2 separate regions of the Homo sapiens genome follow, and region 1 is linked to region 2. The links come from fine-mapping of genetic effects on gene expression. A gene starts in region 2. The other region holds a variant in brackets. All regions are shown on one strand. Distances are between the middles of the regions.

What was found. PIP is the estimated chance that this variant, and not a neighbour inherited with it, causes the effect. A credible set is the group of variants that fine-mapping cannot tell apart.
Region 1: its variant is the best candidate, but not a certain one, in a credible set for the expression of PLCB4 in fibroblasts (GTEx, PIP 0.74).

Annotation. Positions count from the first base shown.
Region 1 is chr20:9,016,131-9,025,378 of GRCh38, reverse strand. No RefSeq gene overlaps it. Among named protein-coding and RNA genes, the nearest start is that of PLCB4, 48 kb to the left of the region's middle. The variant G/A (reference allele first, on the strand shown) is at 5,247.
Region 2 is chr20:9,065,254-9,074,501 of GRCh38, reverse strand. It overlaps PLCB4 (phospholipase C beta 4), which reads right to left and starts at 5,415. Exons shown (of 40, transcript NM_001377142.1): 1 at 5,296-5,415.

The DNA of each region.
Region 1 (9,248 bases), 49 kb after region 2:
TTCCTTGAGCTTTGGTTTCCTCACCTATAAAAGAGGGAATTGGAGTAGAGGAACCCTCCATGTCTGTCAGCACTATCCAACAGAACTGCCTGTGATGTTGGAAATGCTCCGCCTCTGGGCTGTTCATCATGGAAGCCAGTTGCCAATGAGACTGTTGAAATGTGGTTTGTGTGATTGGAAAATGGTATCTGGGCGGGGCCCAGTGGCTCACGCCTGTACTCTCAGCACTTTGGGACGCCAAGGCAGGCGGACCACTTGAGGTCTGGAGTTTGAGACCCACCTGACCAACATGGTGAAACCCCATCTCTACCAAAAGTATAAAAATTAGCCAGGCATGGTGGTGCATGCCTGTAATCCCAGCTACTCAAGAGGCTGAGGCAGGAGAATCGCTTGAACCCAGGAGGCGGAGGTTGCAGTGAGCCAAGATCACGTCACTGCATTCCAGACTGGGTGACAGAGCAAGACTCCATCTCAAATAAAAAAGAAAAAAAGAAAAATAGTATTTCAATTCTACTTAATTTTAACTAATTTAAGTTTAAGTAGTCATATGTGACTAGTACTACTAACTTGGGCAGTACAACTGTAGATTTTAAGCCCCGTAAAAGCAAAAAGCCCTGTCTGTTTTGCTAATTATCTAGTTGCAGGGTCAAAGTCTAGACAGTAACTGGTGGAGTGTTTCACACATTGCAAGATTCCATTACATATTCCTCTGGCCACTAATATGCCAGGCACTGTTCTAGGCACTGGGCATCAACTTGCAAACACAACAGGTGCAAACCACTGTTCTCATGGCACTTATATTCTACTGGGGAACATACACAATTAAACATATATATGAGTAAAATATTCAGTACTGTATATTGAATGGTGATAAGAATTAAAGGAGAAAAATAATCAGAAGAATGATAGGGAGTGTGAGTGCTAGGGCAGGGGGATTATTATTTAAATAGATCAGGCAATGAGAAGGTGACATTCCAGTAAAGACTTGCCTGAGGCATGGGAGCTAGCCATGCTGGGAGGAAATATTGTTCCAGGCAAAGGTCCCAAGGTGAGATTATGCCTGGAGAGTTCCAGAAACAGCAAGAGGCCAGTGTTGGAGGGAACAAGGGGAGTTACGTTAGGTAAAGAGTTTAAAAGTTGGGCTGGTGCAGTGGCTCGTGCCTGTAATCCCAGCACTTTCAGAGGCTCAGGTGGGGAGATCACGTGAGGTCATGGGTTTGAGATCAGCCTGGCCAACATGGTGAAACCCCATCTCTACTAAAAATACAAAAATTATCCAAGTATGGTGGTGTACCCCTGTAATCCCAGCTACTTGGGAGGCTGAGGCATGAGAATCCCTTGAACCCAGGAGGCAGAGGTTGCAGTGAGCCAAGATAGTGCTATTGCATTCCAGCCTGGGTGACAGAGTGAGACTCTGTCTCAAAAAAAAAAAAAGGGTAACTTAGTATACCTGTGTTGAGGAGGGAAGGGGAACATGTAGGGCTTGGGAAGCTTTTGTTTTTTTAAAACCTCTGGCTTTACTTTGAGTGAAATGGGGTTCACTGGAGGGTTTTGAACAGAGGACTGTGATATATCTGATTTGTGGAGGTTTTTTTCAAATTTTTTAATTTTAATTTTAATTTTTATTTATTTATTTATTTATTTTTTTGAGATGGTGTCTTGCTCTGTCACCCAGGCTAGAGTGCAGTAGTGCCATCTCGGCTCACTGCAAACTCCACCTCCTGGGTTCAAGTGATTCTCCTGCTTCAGCCTCCCAAGTAGCTGGGATTACAGGCGCCTACCACTGCACCCAGCTAATTTTTGTATTTTTAGTAGAGACGGGGTTTCACCATCTTGGCCAGGCTGGTCTTGAACTCCTGACCTCATGATCCCCCTGCCTTGGCTTCCCAAAGTGCGGGGATTACAGGTGTGAGCCACAGCACCCAGCCCCACCCCTCTCTTTTTTCTTTTTTAAGAGACAGAGTCTCACATGTCACCCTGGCTGGAGTGCAGTGGTATGATGTTGATTGCACTCTTGAACTCCCAGGCTCAAGTGATCCTCCTGCCTCAGCCTCCTGAGTAGATGGGACCACAGGTGTGCGCCACCACACCCGGAAAGTTTTTTTTATTTTTTGTATTGATGGGGTCTCCCTGTGTTGCTACACAGGGAGTAACTCCTAGGCTCAAGCAATCCTCCTGACTCTGCCTCCCAAAGTGCTGTGATTATAGGTGTGAGCCACCACACTTGGCCTGATTTGTGTTTTCGAGGGATCACTCTTGCTGCCCCCTTAAGAATGTTGTGGGCCAAGGATGGATATCATAGGGCCATGCAGAGAGATATTCTAACAGTGCAGGCAAGAGATCGTGCTGACTGGGACCATGAGAACAGTGAAGGTGGTGAGAATGATGAAGTTCTGGTTTTAAAGGGAATGCCAACCACATTAGCTAACAGATTGGCCATGGACTGTGAGGTAAAGAGATCAGGCAAAGATGACCACAGTTACTTTGGCCAGGGCAACTAGAAGAATGGAGTTGCTATTCACTAGGGTGGACAGGACTGTGGATGGAGCAGGTTCAGGGAGCAGACCAAGAGTTTCATTTGGCATTTATTATGTCCAAATCTGGAATGCAGAATGAACATGCTCTCTGGAGCTTCCAGCTGCACTGATACAGGAGTCTGCCATTGTAGCAGCCTGTACTGGCTGCCCACCCTAATGGATCCTTAATGGGATCTTAATGGGACCCCAGAGAAGCATGATGTTCTGAAGCTTGCTCTACTGCTCTGTCAAGATGTGGAGAATCTCCCTAGCTACCTCCTTTCCTTCCTGAACCCTCAGCTGTCTATGACTGCCCATATCCCAAAGGGCAGAACATCCAGCTGCACTGGCCGCTGTTCATTCTGCCTAAAGGAAGCTGTCTAGACAAAGTCTTTCACTCCTTGCTAATACAGTTTTTTTTTTTAAATTAATTTTAAGGTGGTGAATAGACGATATTGTGTTTGTTCCCAAAGGTACTTACCTTCCACAACTAGAAAGCATTATTCAATTTTAGCACAAAGAAATGTTTAGAATGTTTATCCTGGGGACAAAATATTGCCTTATTAGAACATTTAAAACTAAATTTGTCTTTGTTTTACATAACTTTGTTTAAAACCAGAAAGATATGACATAGAAAATAAATGCAATTAACTTTGAAATGCACAGACATTGGGGTCAAGAAATAACTGACAGCTTTTTATATATACATATATTCCCATCAGCCCTGGAAAGGATTTTCTAGGTTTTGGAATCTTTCATTTACGAAAATCTAGAAGTCTGGCATTTGCTTATTCTTGGAGAGGTGCCAAGAAAGTGAGATGTTTGTCATCTGATAGGACAGAAGGCCTCTTTGATTTCTTGGGAGAGCACAAACTTGGAGAAAGTGAAGCCTGTGGAAAGGTAACTGGAAAGGAAAGCCCCATAGAATGCATACAGGTCTGCCAAGCTTTCTCCTGGGGAAGGATTTGCAGAACAGAGACTGCATTGTTAGTCCACAAGTTACCCAAGACATCTCCCTATTCCTCCCTGCTGAGTTCCTGACTAGGACCTAATTTAAAACCCAGAGATTTGCTTCTGGGTCCTAAATGTGCCCATGTTTCTTCTGTCATGAGCAACGACTCAGGCTAGCTGTTTGCTTCTCTCACGTGGCCTCTCTGTATCCATGCTAGCCCGTAATTCCCATATCCCCCCTAAAGACTTCCTATGGAAAGGGTTTGTTTATCTGCCCATGAAGAGGAGCCCTCATTTTAAGCAATCTGTGTCCACTGGTGTATCCATTTTCACTCCCAATTGGCACTGTTGGTTCTCCACTCGTATCCTGTTTACTGTCCTGCACCCTCATCCTTCAGCTGCCACGAGAGCTGCAGCTAATGGCTCACAGTTGCACCCTTCCCTGGAGAATTGCCCTTGACTGATGGGAGTCACCTGGTCTGGAGATGCCTGGCAGGTTAACTCTCCCATGACCAAGTGGCTGTGACTAATAAGTAAGAGGGCACAAAAGCCTGGTCTCTTTGACCCAGTACCAGACAACTTTGCTATGCAATTTGTGCTCCAGAGCACCCCCACACCGATCAGGTTGAGGCTACCATTCTTGAGGCCTCACCCTTGCTTGGTTCCTTCCAATTCTGTATTCTACTTCCTTCTCTCTCCCATAGGTCTTCTGAACGTACCTCCTTAATAAATTATGTGCACACACATCCTTGGTTCAGGCTCTGCTTCTAGAAAACCCAAGACAATGGTCTCCTGATCCCAGAGTGAGGAGTACATAGTATACTGTCTTATCTTGGGAGAAAAAAAAAAAAAGCCCTGCTATTTTTGGTGCTATCAAACAGATTCCCTTGAGGTATACAAACACAACATGTAGTGAGCCTGTAGAAGACCATTGACAACTGTCTGTTGTCCCTCAAAGAGATGCTTGCTGGTGTTTGGCACTCACCTGAATATGACAGATTGCTGCAAGGCTGAATTTGTGGATAAATACTACCTAACTATGACTACAACATGAGTGAGTAACAGACATGGCAATTACAAGGATTTGATAAAAGATGATTTTAACCTGCAGAAGTGTCAATTGTTTTGAGTGTCTACTGAGTTTCTTCATGACGCTCTATTTTTTAACTAAGTCAAAAATTATTTGGGTGGAGTTCTCCAAAGACAACCTAATACCTTTTTTCCCTCAAAGTATGGTTCATGGACCAGTAGCATCAGCATCACCTGGGAGCTCATTAGAAATGCAGAATCTTGGCTGCATGGCTTATGCCTGTAATCCCAGCACTTCGGGAGGCCGAGTTGAGTGGATCACTTGCGGTCAGAAGATTGAGGCATGCCTGGCCAACATAGTGAAACCCCGTCTCTACTAAAAATATAAAAATTAGCTAGGAGTGATGGTGCGTGCCTGTAATCCCAGCTAATCAGGAGGCTGAGGCAGGGAGAATTGTTTGAACCTGGGAGGCTAAGGTTGTGGTGAACCAAGATCGCGCCACTGCACTCCAGCCTGGGTGACAGAATGAGACTCTGTCTCAAAAAAAAAAAAAAAAAAAAAAAAATTGCAGAATCCTGTGGACCCCAACCCAGACTGGCTGAATTAGAATTTGCAACAAGATCTCCTAGGAGATTCTTATGCATGTGAAAGTTTGAGAACACTAGCTCAAAGACATTCTATTGGTGAGTTCTGCTTGGTTATAATAACTGTGCAAAAATTTGAAAGTGATAGAATTCACAACAACTATA[G/A]CTCATGGTAGAATAACAACTCAGTCATCTAGAGATCAATGATTCTGTAGCTTGAACCACCCAGGACACAGGCTAGCACTGAGGGTGTTATGCAAAAGATCTCTGAGAAACCAAAATAGATGTCACAAAGACCACAAACCAAAACTCACTTGTCTTAGAGGAAATCTCCTTAGACTCTCTCTTAGTTGACATTTATTTTTAGCTGTGTGTTCAGTCTAATAAGATTAGTTATCTGGTTTGAAAGCCTTCTGGAAATTTGAAAGAGCAATTAAAAGGAGAAAAGTGATCTCCTGGAGTTCTCAAAATATAATCTTGGGACCAGGGGCATCAGCATGCGCTGAGGACTTGCTAGAAATGCAAAGATTGGGTCTACCCCTGACCTAGTGAAATAGAAATGTGGGGGTGTGATCCAGCCACCTGTGGTTCAACAAGCCTCTCAGGTGATTCTGATGCATGCTCAAATTTTGTTTCCATTGTCCTGGAGGAAGCGAAGAGTGAAACTGATGACAAGGGAAGAGATGGGGAAAACAAATAAAGAGAGGAACTGAACAGGCTGGGAAGTCTTAGGATCATTTTGGTTTGGTTAAGGGGGTGAGCTAGGGCAGATTTTAGTAGGCAGAGGGTCGTGAAACAATTGCATGGCTGGGGTATTTATTTTTGAAGTAAGACAGAGAAAATGCTAGAAACGCTGTGAGGAAGTCATTGCAGGCTATTCAAGGAGTTTGGCTTTTGTACTCCCAAGTACTGTGGAGTCTTAATCTTTAAGTGGTAGAGTAACCTGATTAAAAAAGAAAAAAAAAGTTTTGTAGCTTACAGGAAGAGGATTTCATTATTTAAAGATTATCCAGTGATGCTGAATAAATGCAGCACTATTATATTCAGTTAAACCAGGAACAATGTCATGTAGATAACCCTGAAGTCACTGACACAAGGCTCTTCTGTAATAGGATCTAGTTGTACCCGTTATGATGTACTTGAGACTTGGAGATAGAAATCTTCACAGAAAATGGAAACAGTCATGTTAACATTTCAGGGCACCTTTCCTTGTTATATAACATAACTGTATCTCTCTTCAAAACACTTTCTTTCTATATTGTTCTAACAATATTTCCATAATGTCAATTTTGGTTTCCCATTTTCCCTTCATATCTTTGTGCTTTTAGCCAGTTATATAAGCCATAGTCAGCTTCTAGTTTGCAATTGATTTTTGAGTAGATACAAAAATTAAAAAAAAATATGAAACCACGACTTTAATATTTGTACAAACCATAATGTAATTCAGCCTATGTTATATACTGACTCATTACTAGTTATAATTTTCTTTTGCTTTCTTAAATTTTTCTTGTTTATTTTTGATGAATTATGTAGACTGACACAAAATTGCACACCATGTTGCTCTGCCAGATCTGTAGCTGGGTGATAATGCTAAAACAAAAGGTCTAAAATGTCCTTTAGAGTGGAGAAATACAGAGGGTACATTAAAATACATTGTTCCGTGAGCATTATTCAGAAGCAGCACTGCTTGGTGTTTTGTTTAAATTATCAAAGAGTTAAAAAACAAAACAAAACTGGATGATGTCTTGGTGGCTTCAGGAAGTTCATGTGTCTCCTTTAAACCCCAGCATCAAAAGAAATAACATTATGTTAAGACACATGTTAATTCAGGGTAGACTGCTTCCAGGATAAAGGAACACTTACCCTGCCTGAATGGAAGAGCCTGTACTTTTGCACTTAACTAAATACAGCTCTTGGGGTGTGTAAGTACCTTGATACCACTAACCTAATACAGAGAGATGCCAGCTCTAATGACTAGCACGGTTTCAATGTATTTTAGTTCTCTTTGATACGGATCTTCTTGAAACAGAAAAGAAAGTCATGGGTTGCTTCAAAAAGCATTCCTGAAACATTGACAAAATGTTCTCTGCAGTTTTACTATCAATGGTGGTCTTTCATTTATTGCAAAATAGGACACCTACTTATGCAACTGAAACAAATGAAAAACACATTACTGGATTTTTTTTTTTTTTTTTTTTAGTGGTTATATAACCTTTCAGAGATAAGCAAACCGTACTTTTTATATGAGGATACATAGAGACATGATGGATGTTCGTTTCATAATGATGTAAAAAATAATATTTATATGAGCGATGTTGGGGCAGAATAGCTTTGTAGGGGAAAATATGTATACATTTTTATATAGTACCTGGGTTTTGGCCTTATGGGTTGATGCAGTGTCAAAATTCCCAAAGATTTTGAATACCTCTCTCATGGGTATAACACACACACATATACATATTCCTAGATGAATTACACATCTAAAAGTGCTATGTTCTAAAAATAAGGAGGAGCCAGGTGCAGTGGCTCATGCCTGTGATCCCAGCACTTTGAGAGGCTGAGGCGGGTGGATCACTTGATGTCAGGAGTTCGAGACCAGCTTGGCCAACATGGTGAAACCCTGTCTTTAGTACAAATACAAAAACTAGCCAGGTGAGTTTGTGGGCACCTGTAATCCCAGCCTCTCGGGAGGCTGAGGCAGGAGAACTGCTTGAACTTGGGAGGCAGACATTGCAGTGAGCCAAGATCATGCCACTTCACTCCAGCCTGGGTGACAGAGTGAGAATCTGTCTCAAAAAAATAAAAAATAAAAATAAAAATAAAGAGGAGAAAAAGGTACAGTCATTTTATAATCTACCATTCCCATATTCCTCCAAAATGAGAAAATAATAGCTGCTAATTTTATTAAATCCAATTTAAAGTATTAATTATTATTAATTATAAACTATTATAATAATAGGCACATATACTCAAGGTGGTTTTAAAATTTCTTAATTGGAAGAGAAGTGCCTCATTCATATGCTGCTTTCTTTATCTGGACTCTTTCACTTCTCCAAAACCTGCAACCCCTTAGTTTTGCCTCAACAGGTTAAAGTCTTATTTTACCGGGATCTCTGATTGGAAGTCACCACCTTTAAGAAGGCTTCTGTGATTTCCTTCCACCAAAAAGTCTGAATCAGTAGCTTCTTTTTTGTATGCCCGTGATGCCTCCCCATCTTAACACTTATAACTCTGTATTTAAATTCCCAGCTTTCCTGTCTCCTTGGGAGACTGAATCCTTTTAAGAATTGGAAGGAAGGCTTGTTTGCTGTGATGTCCTTAGGGCTGAGTACAGTTGTTGAAGAAGGATTTAATTGTCAAATGAGTGAATGCCTGTATTTTCAGAACTTTTTATGCTCTGGTTAGTATGTCCAACCATCAAAAAAGATCCATAATCCAAAAAAGTCCATAATGCCACTGAATGTGGCAGTTCATAACATTTGACTCATCTTTTCCATAGATTTACAATTAAAACTTCGGCCATACACATGTAGTGGTTAACAGACTCTGGAGCCAGAATGCTGGGGTTCAAACCACAGCTCTGAGAGACATTGGAAAATTTGCTTAAACTCTCCATTACTTGTTTTCTCATTAGTAGAAGATTTAATTAATTCATGTGTATGCAGCAATTTGAACAGTGCCTGGGAGATAGTAAGTTTGCCTAAGTTTGTTATTTTAATATTATTATTTTATTAATATTTGTAAAATAACCCAGTGACTAATATGATATTTGGCTATATTTTGACAAACCAGTTCTCTAAATATATACATTTATTTTCTTGCCCATTTTTATCTATCAATTGGGATGAAAAATACAAACGCTGAAGTCAAATAAAGATATGATAATATTTCCACTTTCTCTCTTCCAAAGGTATTTTTTCTTAATTTTCCACAATCATAAAATGTAAGCCCTCTCTTGCAATCCTCTTTGCACTGAAAATAATCTCATGCTTTGACATAATTTGAGATTCAAACTTGACATGAGTTCCACTTTCATTTTCCAGTGCCAGAGTACTGCGGGCTATGATGAAAGAAGGCATTCCATGTGCCAAATCCTCAAACCAAATACATGTATCCTCTGAGTTCAGAATTGTGAGAGTGAGGCCTGTTATTATTAGACTGATAAAG
Region 2 (9,248 bases):
ACCCCTATGAAAGAGAACAAGATGAGAGCCATAATACTAGTAGTACCATTAGGAGAAGGGGCAGTAGCACTTGTTAAACATGCTTTTAATTGTTCAGGAGCATAAGAAAGGCAATGTATCTTAAAGTAATGATTTTCCTGGCCCAAGGGTGTTTCCGTAGCTACAGGTGGAATTTCCCAAACCTGGGCACACCCAAAGATCCTGGGATCCTTTGAGCACCTGTAGTAGCAGCAGTAACAGTACCCTGTATCATTCACAGTGCAGCACCAAGCACTTTTGCCCCATAGGGTTATTCTCCTCATTTTACAGATAGGGCAACTGAGGCTCAGAGTGAATGCCCAGGGTCACACAGCTAAAAGAGGGCATCTGTCAGCATTCAAGCTAAAACAGGGCATTTGTCAGGAATTCAGTGCCTGATTCCAACGCCTGAAGATCTCAGCAACCACTGCTCAATGCAAACCCACAGTGAAAACACCCACCCAGCCAGCTGCCTCTGGGAGGAAGCATTTCTCGAGCACATGGTCTTCGCCTTGTGTGGGTCATGAATGCCCTTCGCAATATGGTAAATCTTAAAGACCCTTTTCAGCAGGATATTTTCATTTTATTATTATTTTTTAATAGACTGTCACTCTGTCACCCAGGCTAGAGTGCACTGATGCGATCTCAGCTTACTATAACCTTGAACTCTTGGGCTTGAGCGATCCTCCTGCCTCAGCCTTCCAAGTAGCTAGGATTACAGGCATGTGCACCACACTCAGCTAATTTTTTTATTGGTATTTTTTGCATAAATTGATCTTACTGTGTTACCTAGGCTGGTCTCAAACTCCTGGCCTCAAGTAATCCTCCTACCTCAGCCTTCCAAAGTGCTGGCATTAGAGGTGTGAGCCAGCATGCCTGGCCCAGCATAATATGTTTAAATATATAAAATTAAATACCTAAAAGTACAATGGAAATCAATCTCATTGAAATATAATTATCAAAATAACTCTTTAAAGGGATATGTGAAGTAATACATGTGTTTCTCTTCAACCCACTAAATGCCAAGATCTAGTAGTAGCCCTAACACCTGCCCCAATTGTCACTTGGAAGTAAGTGAATATAAAGATGTAATTCATTTGCCAGCCACATTCGTGGACCCACCAAACTGCATCCTTGGCCCTAAAATGAAGAACTCCTGTTCTAGAGAAGAAAGGGAGATGTCAAATGTAAAATCAGGGGTCTGTGGTCTGTGGTCTCTGATCTCTGGATGAGCTGCTTACAATTAATTACTTCAAGTTGCTTTTTTCTTCCTGTTTCTAAGGAAATGGCTACTTCAATTCACTCATGTCTGGGAGCCAAAGACATGCTTTAATTGTTCGGGAGGACAAGAAGGGCAATGTATCTTAAAGCCATGATTTGCCTGGCCCAAGGGTATTTCCGTAGCTAGAGGTGGAATTTCCCAGCCCTAGGCATACCAAAAGATCCTTTGAGCTTTGAAGGAGAATCCCAGGAAAGGGGAGAAGATAACACTATCTTATGGTCACATGGTGTGTGACATTCTCATTGAAGGTTTTATAAGTAGTGAGTAAGAGAGGTGTTCAGAGAAAAACCTTGGATTTATGTCCATTTCAACTATTTTTATTTGATAAAGGAAAGGAAAAGTAGACGAAGTGCATGCAGGGAAAATAAACACTCTGCTGGTCATTCATTCCCTGGAACATAAGGATCTCCTAGCTGAGATTTGAAAGGTACAGCATTATTACTTTCATCTCCTCTAGAAACTTGGGTTACGCCTTCAGCATAAAAAAGCATCCAAAGTCGTGAGCTTCCACCCAGACTCTTTCTACCCTTCCACCCAGAAAATGGGGTTTGGGAGTGGTTGCTGCAAAGGAGTGAAGTGGGCCTTGCAAATAAAAGTTATTCCAGGGTGATATTTTCAAAGCAAGCTTAATTCCAACCAAGACAATGTAAACATCACACTCATCCACTCAGTAATGCATAATCACCCAGGTCTGCCTCCACTGGCAAGGAAGTAAACTCATTTTTATACTTGGTTAGCTAAAGAATCACAGCCTAGGAACATGTAAAACCTTTATATCATTCTAAGGCATAACTAGATAAATAATATTACAATTTGAGAAAGTATTTCTACTTTAAAGGGTGAGGCTTTATCAAAAGCAAAACTATTAAACAAACAAATACTAAGGAATAGAAGAAAGAGCTACACAAGTTTATTCATTTTCCCAATATGAGAGGGAAATAGGAAAATGTGGAATGGACAGCACTGAGAATTAAGCAGTGTCCTTGCAAACACAGTTCACATCTGAAAACCAACAGCAAAACCACAGAAAGTCACTGCTGCCTCCCACCAGCGATGAAAAGCTGTATTTATTTCCCAACAGGCAGATAAGTCTCCTTGACAGACACTAATATGGCCTACACATTCATATATTATGAGGTGAAAAGCAACTATTTTAAAAACTTCAATCTGGACATAAAATACCAACTGTGATCATTAAAGCATCTCCATTAGTCCTTGACCTAATTTTGCATATCAAATACAGAAGTTCTTGGTTTTACAGGGACTCAACTGTGGTAGATAGACAGTTTATTAAAAGACCTGGGTCGGCGGTGCTAATCAACATGCTGTTTCACCCTTACTTTATAAGTGATCACAAACAAAAATTTAGTCACAGCCTGCTAAATAATTTTAAGTTTCAAAGAAAATTTATACTTCCTCAAAAATAGTTTACTATTAAGTGTGGAGAGCATGAGAAATCCAAAATCTTTCTTACATTACCTAAGTGCTCTAATCCGAAAAGATAAAATTTACTCTCAAGATTTCAAAATAAAAAATCAAACTCAGCTAATTACTAATTTTTTTTAATAATCTGCAAAATTTTTTCATTAATTCTGTTATTTGAGTTTTCCAGCTACATCTGAAAAACTGGGGATGAAAATTCAGACACTAAACTCAGAAGCTAATTTCACTTATATTGTTACATCCTTTCACAAATTAGCATGCTAATGTGATCACAAGGAAAACAGCACAGCAGCCCTGAAGCTCACTTTTACCTCAATTTTACTTAGAGGGTGAGGTAAAGATGAATACCAGGCAAACATTTCAATTCTTAATAAATCAAACCCCAAAATGAAGTTAGTGGTATCTTAGGAAAATACCATGTTTACTGAAATTGCCAAATATAACTGTCCCATGTTGCCAAAGTCAGCAGTATACATTAATCTAAAGACAGTTGTGTGTAATCTTGGGAAAGGCAAACTAGCTGTGCTACGGGCACTGAATGGACTCTGCTGTGGTTGAAATATTTCAGAGGTGATACAAATTTTTAAAATCTTTTCCTGCAAAAGGTTTTTGGTAACCTGTAACACTTTTTCAACTACCATATTTCTTTATCTCATAAGGCAAAAACACACCGCCTCACGATTCCAGGACATGTAAGCAGTTTAACATCACTCACATTTTCAGGCATATAAATATAAAACTTCCAATAGAGTATTTTAGAACAAAGCTTTCTGCGTGGGTATGCATTTGCAAAATAAAGGTAGAGTTATTCCGACAGATTTAAATGTGCACCCAGTGATCAAATGGAGTTAGAAATTCTGTTTTGACAGTTACTTGTAGAACAGCATTTTCAACAGCGATTAATTCAGAGCTGGGTAGTAATACCATCAAAACTAAGTTCCAACTGTTGAGTAATAATATAGTTGGAAGGAAGTGTAGTCCATAAGCTAATACATGGTACCTTTAGATATGTTATAATACGTCACATTCAAAAGGTTACTCGTCTGGCAGCAAGTCTTACGTTCATAAAAGTGCCAATAAAAATGTTTTGCCATTTCAAAAAGTGATTTTTTATGAAAACAGGTGCTCTCCAAAGATGGCAATCATTTATTAAACTACTACAGTTCAAAAGGAAGATGATATAATAGATCAATACACCAGCTAAGGATCATGCAAGACTGTCCTATGAAAAACAGCATTCTGGATTACATAACACAGATAGTGAGGGATTACACCACATGCCCCTGCTGAGCTAGACTTTTGATCTTCTGTATGATTCTATAACTGAGGCCACTCAAATTTGAAGAGTATAAAATATGAGGGTCTCAGTTCAACCACACATTTCTGAAAACAGCCGTCTTGAAAACAATAAAAGAATAAAGTTAAAATTTTACCTTCCCCCGCAACACACACACAATTTTTCTATTCTGAAAAACACAGTTGTTCAGATACTTTCTTAACCTCCTTGGAGCCTCCCCAGGTAAAGTCACCAGTTGCTTTTCCTGGTCATGTTTACATTATAAATCTGATTTCTCTTTAAGGGGAAATTCAATATCATTTTAAAATGATACATAGCTGCCTATGTTTGAATAACGTTATTTCCAGACAAAAAGAATTATTAAACAGCTATCTCCACATACCTATAACTTAAATATATAGACCACTAAGTATTACGTATATGGAAAAAAAAACACCTTTCCTGAATATTCTGGCCAAAATTAAATTTCAAATACATGTTTTAGAACAATAGCTAGAATCACTACAGAAGTTAAGAGGAAAAAAAGTTGGAAGAGTAGGGTCATCTTTCAGATATATCCATATTTATGGAAACTATAGTGGGCAGTTGTATTTCTCTCTAGGAAAATGCTAGTTTTATGATTCTAGATAAAGTTGCACTTAAACACACTTGGAAATTAGAGAATTCCATATTTCCATACTTCGATTCAGTACCATATACGAAGTCTACACTCAGAAGTATTGTACTATACAGAGTCTAATTGGTTAAAGCAAAAGCAACTTTAAAATTCTGAAAATAAGGATTTCCTTCACTAACAGGCTTTTAGGAGGCCCGAACCCTGCCCCCAATGAGTGCTAAGCCTGTCAGTGTTGTTTTAAGTGGAAACGGTCAATCATTTCTATGATTTCCCCAGAAGAGGCAAGAAGATCCACACGCATACACATTTACATGCGTTGCACGGTGCCAACTATTTCCAACCAAAATAATCATATACACGTCGAGCCGAGCTATTTCTAGCCCAGAAGAGGGTGAACGTCTGGAGAGAGTCTGAGGAAACCCAGCAGGCGATGACTGCAGGGGAAGGGGGATGGCGTCTGGGTCCCCTGCCTCCCGCGCGCACAGGGCGCCTGGCACCCGGCACCTGCACGGGGTCCCCGCTGGGCATCCGGGTGCGCGCGCGCGCGCGTCCGGGACGCACCCGCGGAAAGCAAACAAGCCCTGAGGGCCAAGGCGGGCGGGAGCATCCTCGGGCGGGACCCGAAATGCCTTTTCCTACCTGTCACTTTGCCTGGAGCTGCTGCCGGGGATGCGGCGACGGCCGCTGCCTGGAGACCCAGTGTGTACGCGCGTGTGTGTGCGCGCCCGTGTGTGCGTGTGCGTGTGTGTGTCTGTGTGTGAGAGATCTTGTTGGCGGTGCAGCTCACTTACTGCTCCCGGCGCGGCGCCACCACCCCCTCCTCGCCATAAAGAGCCGCCGCCAAGCCCCCTCCCGGCGCACCCCAGTCCCGCCCTCCCGCCTGCCTCCGCACCCCCTCCCTGGCCTCCCCGCCTCCCCGTCTCCGCGCCGCGCGGTCCTTACCTCAGTTGAGGGCGGGGGTCTCCGCCGTGGCTCCCCAGCGAGCCCACGGGGCAGCGCCGACCCGCCCGCCCACCGCCGGGCCCTGCGCGTCCCCCGCTCCGGGCCCCGCCGCCCCTCAGCGGCCAGCCGCTTCCTCCTCCCCTGCCCCCGAGCCTCCCTCCTCGTTCTCGCCTCCCGGCTCCAGAGCCCGAGCTGTCGCCTCGCAGCCCCAACCTGCCCAGGCTACGGAGCATGCCCAGTGCGGCGCGCCGGGCTGGGCTGGGGGTGGGCAGGGGCCGGGCCGGCCGCCCAGTTGCCGCGAGCCCGCAGGGCGAGGAGTGGGCGCCGACTGGGTCGGGGGCGCAGCCTCGCGAGCCGGGGGCCGAGCAGCCGAGGCAGGTGGTGGGCAGCGCCAAGAGGAGGTGGGTGGGGCATCCGGGGAAGCCGGCCCGCGGCGCGCTCCTCTGGGGTCTCCCTGGCGGCTCCCCGCGGCATGTGCCCCATGCCCAAGGGTCGGGGGCGCACGGGATGGCGCTGGGCGCAGAACCCAGGGAGCGGGGGCAGAAAAGCGGCACCCTCCTCGGATGGGAGACCCGCAGCCCGCCGTGGGCCGTGTGGAGGGGCTCAGGACTGGCCAGAACGGGGCCCCCAAAGCCGTTGGCTGGGTGGGGGACGTGCTTATTTGTTTATATTCGGTTTCATAAACCCATACAGCGCCTACAATGCGTCCTGCAGTGTTCTAAACGCTTTTTATTCATTTAATCCCTAAAACAATCTTCCAAAGAGTACTACTGCCTCTTTTTATTTCGCGGGTCTTACACAGAGCCACAGAGATTAAGTGGTTCCAAAAAGTCTTCCCACAAGTGCAACCTCAGACATGCAAATCCCCCAGACTTTGGTCCCTGGGATGCTGGGGTGCTGCTCCAGCCAGTTCCTGGCTTTTCCCGGCCCTACAACGGCCCCCAGGTGCCTCCGAGTCACACTCACACCCAGGCCCTAATGGTGTTCGGTCTGGCATCACCCTTGTGTGGACCCTCACAACGTGCTGCTCCCGAACTCCGGAGGGCTCCCTCCTCCCCACTCCGCCTCCTCCTTCTCCCGGCCGGCGGCCACCAAAACCCGGAGACGTGGCACCTGCGCATTGGGGACTGGGGCCATGCTCGCAGCTGCACTAGGCATGCTCAGCCGCCTGAGCCGGTCCGGCTGGCCAGGAGGAAAGAAAGGGCCAGACGGGGCGTGAAGTGTAAGAAATGGAGGGGGAATGTGTGTGCAAACAATAGTCCAGGCTCTGATGGGCAGGGGCAGTTGTAGATGCAAAAGACTCATTCCCCTGGCACATCCTGGCCATTTCCAGGCAGGGCTAAGAGATGGGGGTAATAATCATCAAAAGTTTAACCAACTGGGCATCCTTAAGCAAGAGGGGGCTGAGGCCCCACTGACCACTCCCCAGCTCAACTACTAAGCTGTAATTTTAGCTGAGCCTGGAAAAAAAGCTCCTCAGCAGCTGAAGCTGTCTGCCTGTGAAGAAGCCAAGAAAAATATCCCAGACCAAGTTTCCCCACAAGATTGGAAAGGAAAGATAGATCCCAGGGAAAGGCTGGTGGCTCTTCACTGTTAGGGATATTAAAGATGTGGTGATTTTGGCTGGGCGCGGTGGCTCACGCCTGTAATCCCAGCACTTTGGGAGGCCAAGGCGGGTGGATCATCTGAGGTCAGGCGTTCGAGACCAGCTTGGCCAACATGGTGAAACCTCATCTCTACTAAAAATACAAAAAAAAAAAAAAATTAGCCGGTCGTGGTGGTGGGCACTTGTAATCCCAGCTATTCAGGAGGCTGAGGCAGGAGAATCTCTCGAACACGGGAGGCGGAGGTTGCAGTGAGCTGAGATAGCCCCACTGCACTCCGCCCTGGGCGACAAAAGCAAAACTCCATCTCAAAGAAAAAAAAAGGGATCTGGTGATTTTGAGTGATTCCAGCATGATAAGGCAGTGTGTAATGGGCATACAAGTTGCCTGAGGATCTTGTTAAACTCCAGATTTTGATTCAGCAGATCTGGGGTGGGATCAGAGATTCTGCATTTCTAACAAGTTCCCACACCATGCTGATGTTGCTGTCTTTAGATAGATTTTTAGTTGCAAGAGGTTAGGGCAGTATTTTAGGCCTGTTCTTTATTTTATATGTATAAGAAAACCAAGGTTCAAAAAGGTTAAGCAATTTGCCCCCAGGTCACACGGCCAAGAAGTAGCATCACTAGGCTCAAACCCAGTTCTCCAGGGCTTCCTGTGTATGTTCCTCTATTCCCCAGGTATCACTCACAGACAGATGAGCTGAAGCTGTGTGTCTTGACAGTTTTTAACAATAGAACATAGTATTAGTAGATAATGCACCCAAACACACTATATCAGTTAGCCTTTAGTGTGTAACAAACCACACCAACACATAGTAGCCTAAAGCAACAATTATTCATTAGCTCACAATTCTGTGAATCAGTAACTGGAGCTAAAATCAGCTGAGCAGTGTTGTTCTCCTGGGCCTACTCATGCAGCTGCAGACATGCGGAGCTTGGAGCCTCATCCGGATGGCAAGGATGACAGGGTATTCCCATATGGCTTCTTCGTATGGTGAGTTCCTAGTTCCCAGCAGCAAAAGAAGGAAAGCCCCAATTCAAAATAGCATTTTATACCTCTGCTTGCTAATGTTCTACTGGCCAAAGCAAGCCACATGGCCATGCCCAGATTCAAAACATGGAGAAATCAACTTCAATTTTAATAAAAGGAGACACAAAATAGAGTAGTATTTTGTTTTTAAAATCTACCACACACATCAGAGTCCATAAAACTAGCCCTCCTGCCTTAGAGTTCAAAGTTGTATAGATTAAGCCTATCTTTCATTTTATATATTGGTAAACCAAGTCACAGTAATCTTTGTTGTTACTGTTAAGTCTTCAATCTAATAATATGTTTATTAAGGAATCTCAACTCAGGTATAAACATTAAATAATTTTTTTCTCTAAATCCTAAATTCAATCCAAATTCTCAATTCCCTTACCCTGCCTTTGATGACATGTTAGATGGTCATTCATTCCACATTTTTTTTTTTTGAGACAGGGTCTCGCTTTGTTGCCCAGGATGGAGTGCAGTGGCATCATCACGGCAACCTCAAACCCAGGGGCTCAAGTGATCCTCCCACCTCAGCACTCCCAGTAGCTTGGACTACAAGTGTGCGCTACCACACTTTGCTAAATTTTTTTATTTTATTTTTTTGTAGAGACAGAGTCTCACTATGTTGCCCAGGCTGGTTGTGAACTCCTGGGTTCACATGATCCTCTTGCCTCAGCCTCCCAAAGTACTCAGATTACAGGTTTGAGCCAAAGGATTGAGCTTGGATTACAGGTTTGTGCCTGGCCCATTGAACAAATTTTTTGAAACCTTCTATGTGCCAGGCACTACTCTTTGGCCAGGATACTAAAATAAGCAAGAGACAAAAATAATTGCCCCTAAGAAACTTAGATACTATCACAGGAGATAGACAATAGCATATTAAAAATATAGAACATTGGGCCAAGTGTGGTGGTTCTAGCCTATGATCCCAGCACTTTGGGAGGCCAAGGTGGGCAAATCACTTGAGGTCAGGAGTTCGAGACCAGCCTGGCCAACATGGCAAAACCCCAA